Linked DNA regions of Homo sapiens: region 2 is linked to region 1. Evidence: fine-mapped expression QTL. A gene starts in region 1. The other region holds a variant in brackets. All regions are shown on one strand. Distances are from middle to middle. Region 1 holds the start of LINC00892 (long intergenic non-protein coding RNA 892). Region 2 overlaps ARHGEF6 (Rac/Cdc42 guanine nucleotide exchange factor 6).

Evidence for each region.
Region 2: its variant is fine-mapped to the expression of LINC00892 in whole blood (TOPMed, PIP 0.98).

The regions. Positions count from the first base shown.
Region 1 is chrX:136,636,400-136,641,785 of GRCh38, forward strand. It overlaps LINC00892 (long intergenic non-protein coding RNA 892), which reads left to right and starts at 3,144. Exons shown (of 3, transcript NR_038462.1): 1 at 3,144-3,405; 2 at 4,375-4,441.
Region 2 is chrX:136,700,822-136,706,207 of GRCh38, forward strand. The region is part of intron 9 of ARHGEF6 (Rac/Cdc42 guanine nucleotide exchange factor 6); the gene reads right to left. Among named protein-coding and RNA genes, the nearest start is that of CD40LG, 55 kb to the left of the region's middle. The variant C/T (reference allele first, on the strand shown) is at 2,471.

The DNA.
Region 1 (5,386 bases):
CTTTCCCAGGAGGATTTGCACTTAAAAAGGACACTTGGGGAGGGAGCCTGCCCCTCTGTACAAAGCTTGTCCTTTAGAAGACCTGGACACAGCCGCCAGGTGGGAAGGTGTCACCTGTGTGAGGGAAGTGGGAGGTTATCCTGAGGAGAGAGTGTGTGAACCAGGGTTGGTCTGGGGCGGGGCAGCGGTTGGGTGGGGAGGACAAGACTTTTCTGCCTGCACTACCCCCACCTTCCTTTTTCCCATTTGTTTCACCAAGATTTTCCTTCCTGACTTGTTTTTGGACACTTTCTGCACCCCTCTTGTTCTGTTCCTAAACTGTCCCATGCACCTTTCCACTACCTTCTCCCTGAATATTTTTTGCTGTGTCCTGTTCCTTGTCCTGGTCCCAAATCACTTGGCCTGCCCTTCCCTTGTCCCTGGATCTTTTTGCTGAGTGGCACTATTTTTGGACAAAGAGCCTTTTCCAGTCCTGCCTTGAACCACACTACATAGAAGCCTCCGTGTAGATGATGTGAGAGTCAAAGCTCTAGGAATTAGCTAACTCTTACCTGGGGCTGGGGGCCAGGCTGTGGAAGGACAGAGACTGGAAAGAGAGCAGGACCCCTTCAGCAGCCCTGCTTACCTTCTGCAGAGCACAACAGCCTGGCCTAAACAAAAATGTTCCTAGTGGCAGAAGATACTTCTCCAGAAGGGCTTGCTTTCATCACACTGTAATTATATATACATTCATTCAGTGAAAATTTACTGATCACCTACTATATGCCAGGCACCATTCTAAGTGCTGGAGATACACCAGTGAATAAAAAAGACAAAAAGGCCCTGCCCTTATGGATGGATCTTACATTCTAGAAACCAGTGCTGGACCAGGCATCAAGACCCTAAGTTATTAGCTATGAGACCTTGGAGGAGCTGCTTAACAACTTCCTGAGCCTGGGGTCAGAACTGAAGAGGGCAGCGTGGAAGATAACAGTTAGAATTTGGAGCCTCAGATTTCTCATCTATCAGAGGGGTATCAGGCTGAATGGGTCGACAGATACAGAGGTGTGCTCTTTGAAGAGTATCCAATACCATATAAACATATGGTTTTATTATCGTCTACCCTCATCCTTGCCACCACTTTTAGGGAGTAGTTCCTAGCTTTGGGCCTACAAGAAATGAAGGTACCCTGGGTCTATTTCATTTGGAAGGATTCTGCAAGTGCATGAGAATAGAGAATACAAGTATTAGGTTGGTGCAAAAGTAATTGTGGTTTTACCATTACTTTCAATGGCAAAAATCTGATGATTAAAGATAGATAGATAAATAGATGATGGGTAGATATAGCTATAGATACATGTTTTTTACACAAGTAGCACATATTCATTGTGGGAAACTTCAAAAATATAGACAAGTTAAAGCAAAAAGATAAAGATACCCCAGAACCTATCACCCAGACACAAGTCTTGTGGTACCTTGCAGACTTGTTTCTGTGTGCACATGTAGAGGAGTGTAGAGCATAATCAAAGAGCCATGCGGTTCCTCCGCTTGACTGTGTGTCCTCTGCTGATGAACATCTTTCTGCTCAGGTCATGATTGGAGCAGCATTTCAAAAGATGGAGCCACTTTCTTCTACAGAAGTGTTGTATTAGTTTCCAAGGGCTGCCATAACAAATTACCACAAACTGGGGAGCTTAAAATGATAGAAATGTATTCTTTCACAGTCCTGGAGGCCAGAAGTCTGAACTTGAAGGTGTTGGTAGGGCCATGCTCTCTCTAAAGGATCTAGGGGAGGGTCTTTCCTTGTTTCTTCCTAGCTTTTAATGGTTGCCAGCAATCCTTGATGTTCTGCGGCTTGTAGACACATCTCTCCAATCCCTGCCTCTGTTTTTGCATGGCTGTTTTCCCTCTGTGTTTGTCTGTGTTCAAATTTCCCTCTTCTTATAAGATCACTAGTCATTGAATTAGGGCCCACCTTAATTCAGTTTGACCTTATATTAATTTCACTAATTACATTTACAAAGTATTTCCCCCCCAAAAAAGTCACATTCACAGGTGCCACATGGGCATGAATTTGGGGAGGGGAACACTGTTCAACCCAGAACAGATATCAACCCTACTGCTTATTTGAAACTGCTTCAGATGTGGTTGGTTCCCCGATGTCAGGGGAGAGAGAGGGCTCCAGGCATCAGCCACCCTGTGACAAGGAGTACCAGGACATCCTTCTCCTCAAAGTCAGAAAACATCCTGATGTCAAAGATACGGGCTATTGAGTTATATGTGGAAGTGCTCTAGTGGAAACTGTCCCAGGTCCACGCTTACCAAGATGGCGCAGTTCACCATGGGGCACTGTGATGAAGAAAGATTCCCAACTCCACTTATTCACAGGGGAACACCCGTGCCACAATAGCTATCAAAGGTTGTGGTAATTGTTTTCCAATTATCTACCTGTGGGCAAAAATTAACATGGGTGCAGAGCATGGAGGGGAACTTTTAGCTACTACTCATAAGCACTTTAGGGACACTCTCAACTTATTTTTACAAAACTGGAACTGGGCCGGTTGCAGTGGCTCACACCTGTAATCCCAGCACTTTGGGAGACCGAGGCAGGCGGATCGCCTGAGGTTAGGAGTTCAAGACCAACCTGGCCAACATGGCAAAACCCCGTCTCTACTAAAAGTACAAAAATTAGCTGGGCGTGGTGGCAGGTGCCTGTAATCCCAGCTACTCAGGAGGCTGAGGCCGGAGAATCGCTTGAACCTAGGAGGCAGAGGTTGCAGTGAGCCGAGATCATGCCACTGCACTCCAGCCTGGGCAACAAGAGTGGAACTCTGTCAAAAAAAAAAAAAAAAAAAAAAAACTGGGGACATCCTATTTCTGCCATGATATTTGCACTATCAGTGTATCACAGGGGTCCTTCTAAGCCAGTAATATACTTCTGTACCAAAATGTATTTAACTAGTAATCCTAAATCTTTTGATAAAGCCCTTCCATTTCTCTTCCACCCCTGTGGTCCCTGTGGTACATCTTGTGCTGAAAGATTACCTTCTACTCAAATCTTAACTATTTTACTGAATCTCTCCACCTCCTTTTGCACCCCTTGACTCAGCCAGGAAAAAAATATATATATATATATATTTCCTGCCCCTGGCGTTTCCTTAATCAGATGCAGACATGGCTGGATGTTCTTTGCTGGGCTGCTGAGTCAGAAGCCTGGACGGGCCAGCTTCAGTTTTAATGAAGTGGCTCAGGAAGGAAGTGCTAACAGAGATGGGTGCACAGTGCAGTCAGTGGGTGGGAGCTGATGCTGGCTAGAAGACCTGAGTCTTCCGAGAGGCAGCTTGATTCCTGGAAAAGACTACTGGGCTGGAAGTCAGGAGGCCTGGGGTACTCTCAGCTCTGCCGCTAACATGCTGCATGACCATGGTAAGTCATTGCCTTTCTCCGAGCCTCAGTGAGAAACAGCGGGCCTGGCCCCAGAAGACACTGTGGGAGAACTAGAGGTCTTCTGCGTCAGGCCCCCACTAAGAAGGCAGTCTCCTGTGAGGATACCTAAGAGATGAGTTAGAAGCAGAGGGCACATTTCACAAACAGCCCCCAAGGGGTTGTCAGGAACAGACCACAGGAAGAATCAGAGAGACAGAAATTGCCCAAGCCTGTGGTCTGAACTGAAGAGGGCAGCCTGGAGGACACCAGTTAGAAGTTGGAAAGAGAGAGAGAGAGCCCTGAATGAGTTAAGTCAAGAAGAAGGATCATGGTAGAGGTAAATTGCAGGGTAGGCGGGGAAAGGCTGTGGAGAGGGGTTTCTGGGCAGTGGAGCCAGGAGCTAGCCTACTAAAGTCCTGGAGCTCTAGGGGAGATGCAGAAAGCAGGCTGAGGCCAGGCATGGTGGCTCACGCCTGTAATCCCAACAGTTTGGGAGACCAAGGTGGGCAGATCACTTGAGGCCAGAAGTTCCAGACCAGCCTGGCCAGCGTGGTGAAACCCTGTCTCTACTAAAAATACAAAAATGAGCCAGGCGTGGTGTGCATACCTGTAATCCCAGCTACTCAGGAGGCTGAGACATGAGAATCACTTGAACCTGGGAGATGGAGATTGCAGTGAGCAGAGATCGCGCCATTGCACTCTAGCCTGGCGACGCAGCAAGACTCTGTCTCAAAAAAAAAAAAAAAAAAAAAAGGCAGGCTGAGACTAGAGCAAGGGAGGTTTAAAAAAATGGACTAGAACCACACAGACAAGTCTTAAATGTTCAATCATGTCAGGCTGATATTTGAAGGAAAACAGGTGCCAACTATGTGCCCACCTGCAGAGCATGCCATCCCTGAGACCCTTCACCGTGGAAGAAAGGGAACTTTTTGTTCTATAAACACCTGATATTTCATGTTCCACATTAAGGGCTGACTGGAGAACCTGAGGTGCTGTGCAGAGACCAGAGGAAGGCTTTGATCCCAAGCCTGCAGCCGTAAGAGAAGAACGAGCCCATGAGTTCCAGCCTGTGGGTCCTTCCACATGCTAGTTCCTGTACCTGGAATGTATTCTTTCCTGACCCAGAAAATTCCTTCAGGGCTTCCTCTTCCAGGAAGTCTTCCCTGAGTCTGTCACCTCTTCACCCTCACTCCTTCTGCATGCTCCCAAAATCCCCTGCACTTCTCTACTGTGGATGCTTACCCAGTGCACTGTGGTCCACTCTGGCTTTTGTATCTCCTTAACTAGCAGCTCTGTCTTTTTCATTTTGGATTCCCAGACCTATCAGAGAGCCTAGTGCTTGCCAAATGCTGGGAAAATACTTATTGAAAGGATATTGACTACTCGGTGTTAGCCACAAGGCCCCTCGGACAGTCTTGCCATAGGAAACATCAATGGGAGAACCTTTTGGAATATATAGAGAGATGCTGTGGGGAACTTATGGGTTTGTTTTTTTTGTTGTTGTTTGTTTGTTTGGCTAAACTCACAGCAATAGGTGTTAGAGTCATACAAGGGTTACAATAGCACCCAAGAGCCCACTTATGACTAGAAATTTCTTCCAGAATTCCCTTCAAAGCATGACTCTCCTGCTGTGTTTGGGGTGGGGAGTGTGTGGCAGTGGCGAGGGGACACAATCCTGCCTCTAGGATACAACTCTGGAGTGGATATGTGCCAAGAAAGCTCACCTTGGGGACCTGGGATGGAGGTAGGCATCTGGTAGAAAGGGAGAGTGAGGATTCTGGGCACACTATGAAAACTAATACCAGAAACCAGATCAAGACACCCAACATCCCCATTCCCAACCACACTCATCTATGCTGGAGGTGATTATCCCCACGCCCCTCCTATGTTACTCTTCCTGAGCCATTGGAGTGCCAGAATAAACATAACCAACTAGAAGACTTCTGCAGAATGGAAAAGGATGGAAGATTCCAGACTAGAA
Region 2 (5,386 bases), 64 kb after region 1:
AATTATTAGGGAATTCAAAATAACTATGGTTAATATGTTAAAGGTTCTAACAGATAAAGATAGACAACATGTAATAAAAGATGGGTAATGTAAGCAGAGTGATAGAAACACTAAGAAATGATCAAAAGAAAATGCCTGAAATAAAAAACACTGTGACAGAAATGAAGAATGCCTTTGATAGTCTAACAAATAGGCTAAACATAGCTGAGGAAACAGTGAGCTTCAAGATATGTCAATAGAAATTTCCTAAACTTAAATGTAAAGAAAAAAATTTTAAATGGAAGAGAATACACAAAAACTGTGGAACAAGTACAAAAGGTGTAACATGCATAATGGGAATATAGACAGAAAAGAAAGAGAAAAGAGAAGAAATATTTAAAATGTTGACCCTATTAGGCCAAGAATTTTGCAAAATTATTGACAGACCCCAAACTGCTGATCCAGGTATCTCAGAGAACACCAAGCAGGATATATAGCAAAACATATCTACACCTAGCCATTTCATATTCAAGCTGCAGAAAGGCAAAAGCAACGAGAAAATCTTGAAAGAAGCCAGACAGGGAAAAACACCTTACCTGTAGAGGAACAAGGATAAGAATTGTATCAGACTTCTCATTATAAACCATGCAAACAACAGAATGGAATGAAATATTTAAAGTGTTGAAGGAAAAAAATGACAACCTAGAATTCTGAATACTTTCTCAAACAAACAAAAAATGTGGGAAATTGTGGCCAGATGACTTGCCTTGCAAAAATGTTAAAAGAAGTTCTTCAGAGAGAAGGAAAGTGATATAGATTTAAAAACAACAAACAAAACTTGGATACATGGAAAAAAGTATCAAAAATAATAAATCCAGGTAAAACAAAATATTTCATTTTTCTTTTTTTTTTTTTTTTTTTTTTTGAGATGGAGTCTCGCTCTGTCACCCAGGCTGGAGTGCAGTGGCGCCATCTTGGCTCACTGCAAGCTCCGCCTCCCGGGTTCACGCCATTCTCCTGCCTCAGCCTCCCTAGTAGCTGGGACTACAGGCGCCCACCACCACGCCCGGCTAATTTTTTGTATTTTTAGTAGAGACAGGGTTTCGCTGTGTTAGCCAGGATGGTCTCGATCTCCTGACCTCGTGATCCGCCCACCTCGGCCTCCCAAAGTGCTGGGATTACAGGCGCGAGCCACCGCACCCGGCCTCATTTTTCTTATTCTTAATTGATTTAATAGATAACTGTTCAAAGTAATAATAGCAACAGTGTATTGGGTGATTTTACTTTATAGAAAAGTGAAATGAATTACAATAATATTATAAGGGATAAGAGGGAGGAATTGAGAATATTCTGTTATAAGTTACCTATGAAATTGTGTAGTGTTATGTGAAAGTGTTGTTAGATTTAGCTGTAAATACATAACATAAACTCTAGGGATACTGGTAAAATTTTTTAAAGGGAGTATTATATGCTAAGAGAAAAGTGAAAATAAAATGTTTACTAAAAACAGAAAAGGCGGAAAAATAGAGGTAAAAAAGAAACAAAGAACAATTGCAATGAATAGAAAACATGGCAGATACTAATCCAAATATATAAATAATCACTTAACATGTGAATTTTCTAAATACGCCAATTAAAAGAATGAGACTGTCAGAGTGGATTAAGAAACAAGACTCAAATATATTTTGTCTACAACATATATTTTAATCTATGACAATTAAAAGTAAAGAGATGAAGAAGGATATATCCTATTAACAATAATTGAAAGAAAGCTGGACTAGCTGTATTAATTTCAGACAAAGCAGACTTCCGATCAGGGAAAATTATCAGAGATAAAGAGGAAAAATATACAATGATAAAAGGGCAAATTCTCCCACAAAACATAATAATCCTTAATGTGAATGCACCTAACAACAGAGTATCAAAATACATGAAACAAAAATTGATAGAACTGAAAAGAGAGATAAATCTATTGTGGTTAGAATTTAACATCTCTCTATCAGGAACTGACAGATCCAGCAGCAGAAAATTAGTAAGCAGGCAGTTGAACTGAATAGAACCATCAGTCAAGTGGTTCTAATTAACATTTGTAGAATATTTCATTCAACAACAGTCACACTTTCTTCTCACACTCACATGGAGCATTCACCAAGATAGACCACGTTATGGGCCATAAAACACAACTTCAATTTATAAGAATAGAAATCAACAAATGGTGCTGGGACAACTAGATATCCACATGCAAAAGAATAAAATGGAACCATATGCACAAATTAACTCAAAATTAATTAAAGACCTAAATATAAAAGCTAAGATTATAAAACTCTAAGAAAATAAATAGGCATGAATCTACATGACCTGGATTAGGCAATAATTTCTTAGATACAACACCAAAAGTGCAAGCAACAACAACAAAACAACATATTGGACATCATCAAAATTAAAATGTAAAATCAAAATTTTTGTGCTTCAGAGAACACCATCAAGAAAC[C/T]GAAAACACAACCCAAAAAATGAAAGCATATTTTTTCAAATCATATATAGGCACACCTCATTTTATTGCAGTGTACTTTATTGAACTTCACAGATAATTGCATTTTTTACAAATTGAAGTTTTGTGGCAACCGTGTGTTGAGCAAGTCTATCGGTGCCATTTTTCCAAAAGTGCGTACTCACTTTGTGTCTATGTGTCATATTTTGGTAATTCTTACAATACTCCAAACTTTTTTTATTTTTTTTCCTGAGACGGAGTTTCACTCTTGTTGCCCAGGCAGGAGTGCAATGGCGCAATCTCGGCTCACGGCAACCTCCGCCTCCCAGGTTCAAGTGATTCTCCTACTTCAGCCTCCCAAGTAGCTGGGATTACAGCCATGTGCAAGCATGCCCAGCTAATTTTGTATTTTTAGTAGAGATGGGGTTTCTCCATGTTGGTCAGGCTGGTCTCAAACTCCTGACCTCAGGTGATCCGCCCGCCTTGGCCTCCCAAAGTGCTGGGATTACAGGCATGAGCCACCACGCCCAGCCAATAAAGTATTCTTTAATTAAGGAATGTACCTTGCTTTTTTAGACATGATGCTATTGCACACTTAATAGACTATACAGTAGAGTGTAAATATAACTTTTGTATTCATTTGGAAACCAAAAAGTTCATGTGACTCACTTCATTGCAATATTCACTTCACTGTAGTGGTTTGGATCCACAGTATCTCCAAGGTAGACATGTATCTGGTAAGAATCTAATATCCAGAATATATAAAGAACTGTTGCAACTCAACAATGAAAAGATAGCTAACTGAATTTTTTAAATGAGCAAAAGATTTAAATAGACATATTCCCAAAGAAGACATTAAAATAGCCAATAAGCAAGATGAAAAGATGCGCAACATCACTAGCCATTAATAATGAGTGACTGTTACTGGGGACAGGTTTTTAGAGGGGAGTAATAAAAATGTTCTGGAGCTAGACAGTGGTGATGGCTACACAACCTTGTGAATATATTAAAAACCACTGAATTGCGTAGTTTAACATCGTGAATTTTATGTTATATAAATTATATCTCAATAAAAATACACATAACCCAATTTAAAAACAGGCTAAGGATCTGAATAGACATTTCTTTGAATGAAGGTATACGAACTTCCAGTAGGTACATGAAAGATGCTGTATTAGTCCGTTTTCACACTGCTATAAAGATACTATCTGAGACTGGGTAATTTATAAACAAAGGAGGTTTAATTGACTCACCATTCCACATGGCTGGGGAGGCCTCAGGAAACTTACAATCATGGTGGAAGGAGAAGGAAAGGCAAGTACTTCCTTCACAAGGTGGCAGGAAAGAGAGCAAGAGCGACGGGGGAAGAGCCCCTTATAAAACCTTCAGATCTCGTGAGAACTCACTATCATAAGAACAGCTTGGGGAAAACCACCCCCATGATCCAGTCACCTCCCACCTGGTCCCTCCCTCGACATGTAGGGTTGACAATTCAAGATGAGATTTGGGTGGGGACATAGAACCAAACCATATCAGATGCTCAATATCATTATTCCTGAGGAAAATGCATATCAATCTCACCATGAGAAACCACTTCATATCCACTAATATGTCTATAATCAAAAAGACTGACAATAACAAATGTTTGGTGAGGGTGTGGAGAAAATGAAACCCTCATACACAGATAGTGAGAAAATAAATTGGTGCAGTGACTTTGTTTTGTTGTTGTTGCTGTTGTTGTTTTGTTTTTGTTTTGTTTTTTGTCTGAGGCAGAGTCTTGCTCCGTCAAGTGAAGCCAAGGTGGGCGGATCATTTGAGGTCAGGAGTTCGAGATCAGCCTGGCCAACATGGTGAAACCCCATCTCTACAAAAATTAGCTGGTCGTGGTGGTGCGTGCCTGTAATCCCAGGTACTCTGGAGGCTGAGGCAGGAGAATCGCTTGAATCTGGGAGGCAGAGGTTGCAGTTGTGCTCCAGCCTCGGTGACAGAGCAAGACTCTGTCAAAAAAAAAAGGAAGGGAAGAGGAGGGGAGGGGAGGGAGAAAAGAAAAGGGTAACTTTCTATTGCTTAAGCCAGGTGGTAGATACACAGGTGCTCATTTTATTGTGATCCTTTAAATTTGCATTTACATTATTCTTTCTGTGGATAAAATATATGTCTTAATAAAAATATTTTTTAGAAGTCTGACAGACCTGGATTCTGGCTCAACCACTTAAGATCTATGAGTTCTTGGGCACATTACTTAACCTAAGCCTTCCAATGTCTTATCTGTAAAGCAGAGATGGTAATAATAATAACTCCCTCATAGGCTTTTACATCATGTGCCTGGCACATCGTCAGTGCTATTACTAGCTAATGTTAGCTATAAGCAGTTGAGCCACTTGCCTAAAAATGCCAGGTTCATGACCTCTCTTTCTTTAAACTCCAATTTCCATATTTGCTATTCCATAAGAGTTCAAAATTTATCAGAGGAATAAAATTGACCTTCAAGCAGGACTTACTGCGTTCAACCTTTAAAATGTCCTTACATAACATCTTTGTAAAGCCAATAAATATTGCACCTTAATAAACCAGGACAAGAACCAAAATTTCTGTCATTTCTGGAGGCTCGTGTCAACTAATGTTCTAGCCTAGCTCTGGGAGCTCAAATCTAGGTCAGATTAAGAGAATATTATTTTCAGTCTTGAACAGCTTCCAGAATCCATGTCCATTCTGCATCTTAGTCTCCAAGTTAAGTCAAGAGTCTCTATATGTTGGACTTGCTTTTGTCCCACCTGGATTTCCAGCATATGACTTCAAAGGTAAAATTCTGTCACTAAGCCTGTCCTACAGTTTTCTGGCCCAGATGAATGTGTCAGTGAATGTGTCAGGGGTGGGTAGTCAGAAGCTAAGGATGGCAGGAGAGGTGTAACACTTATC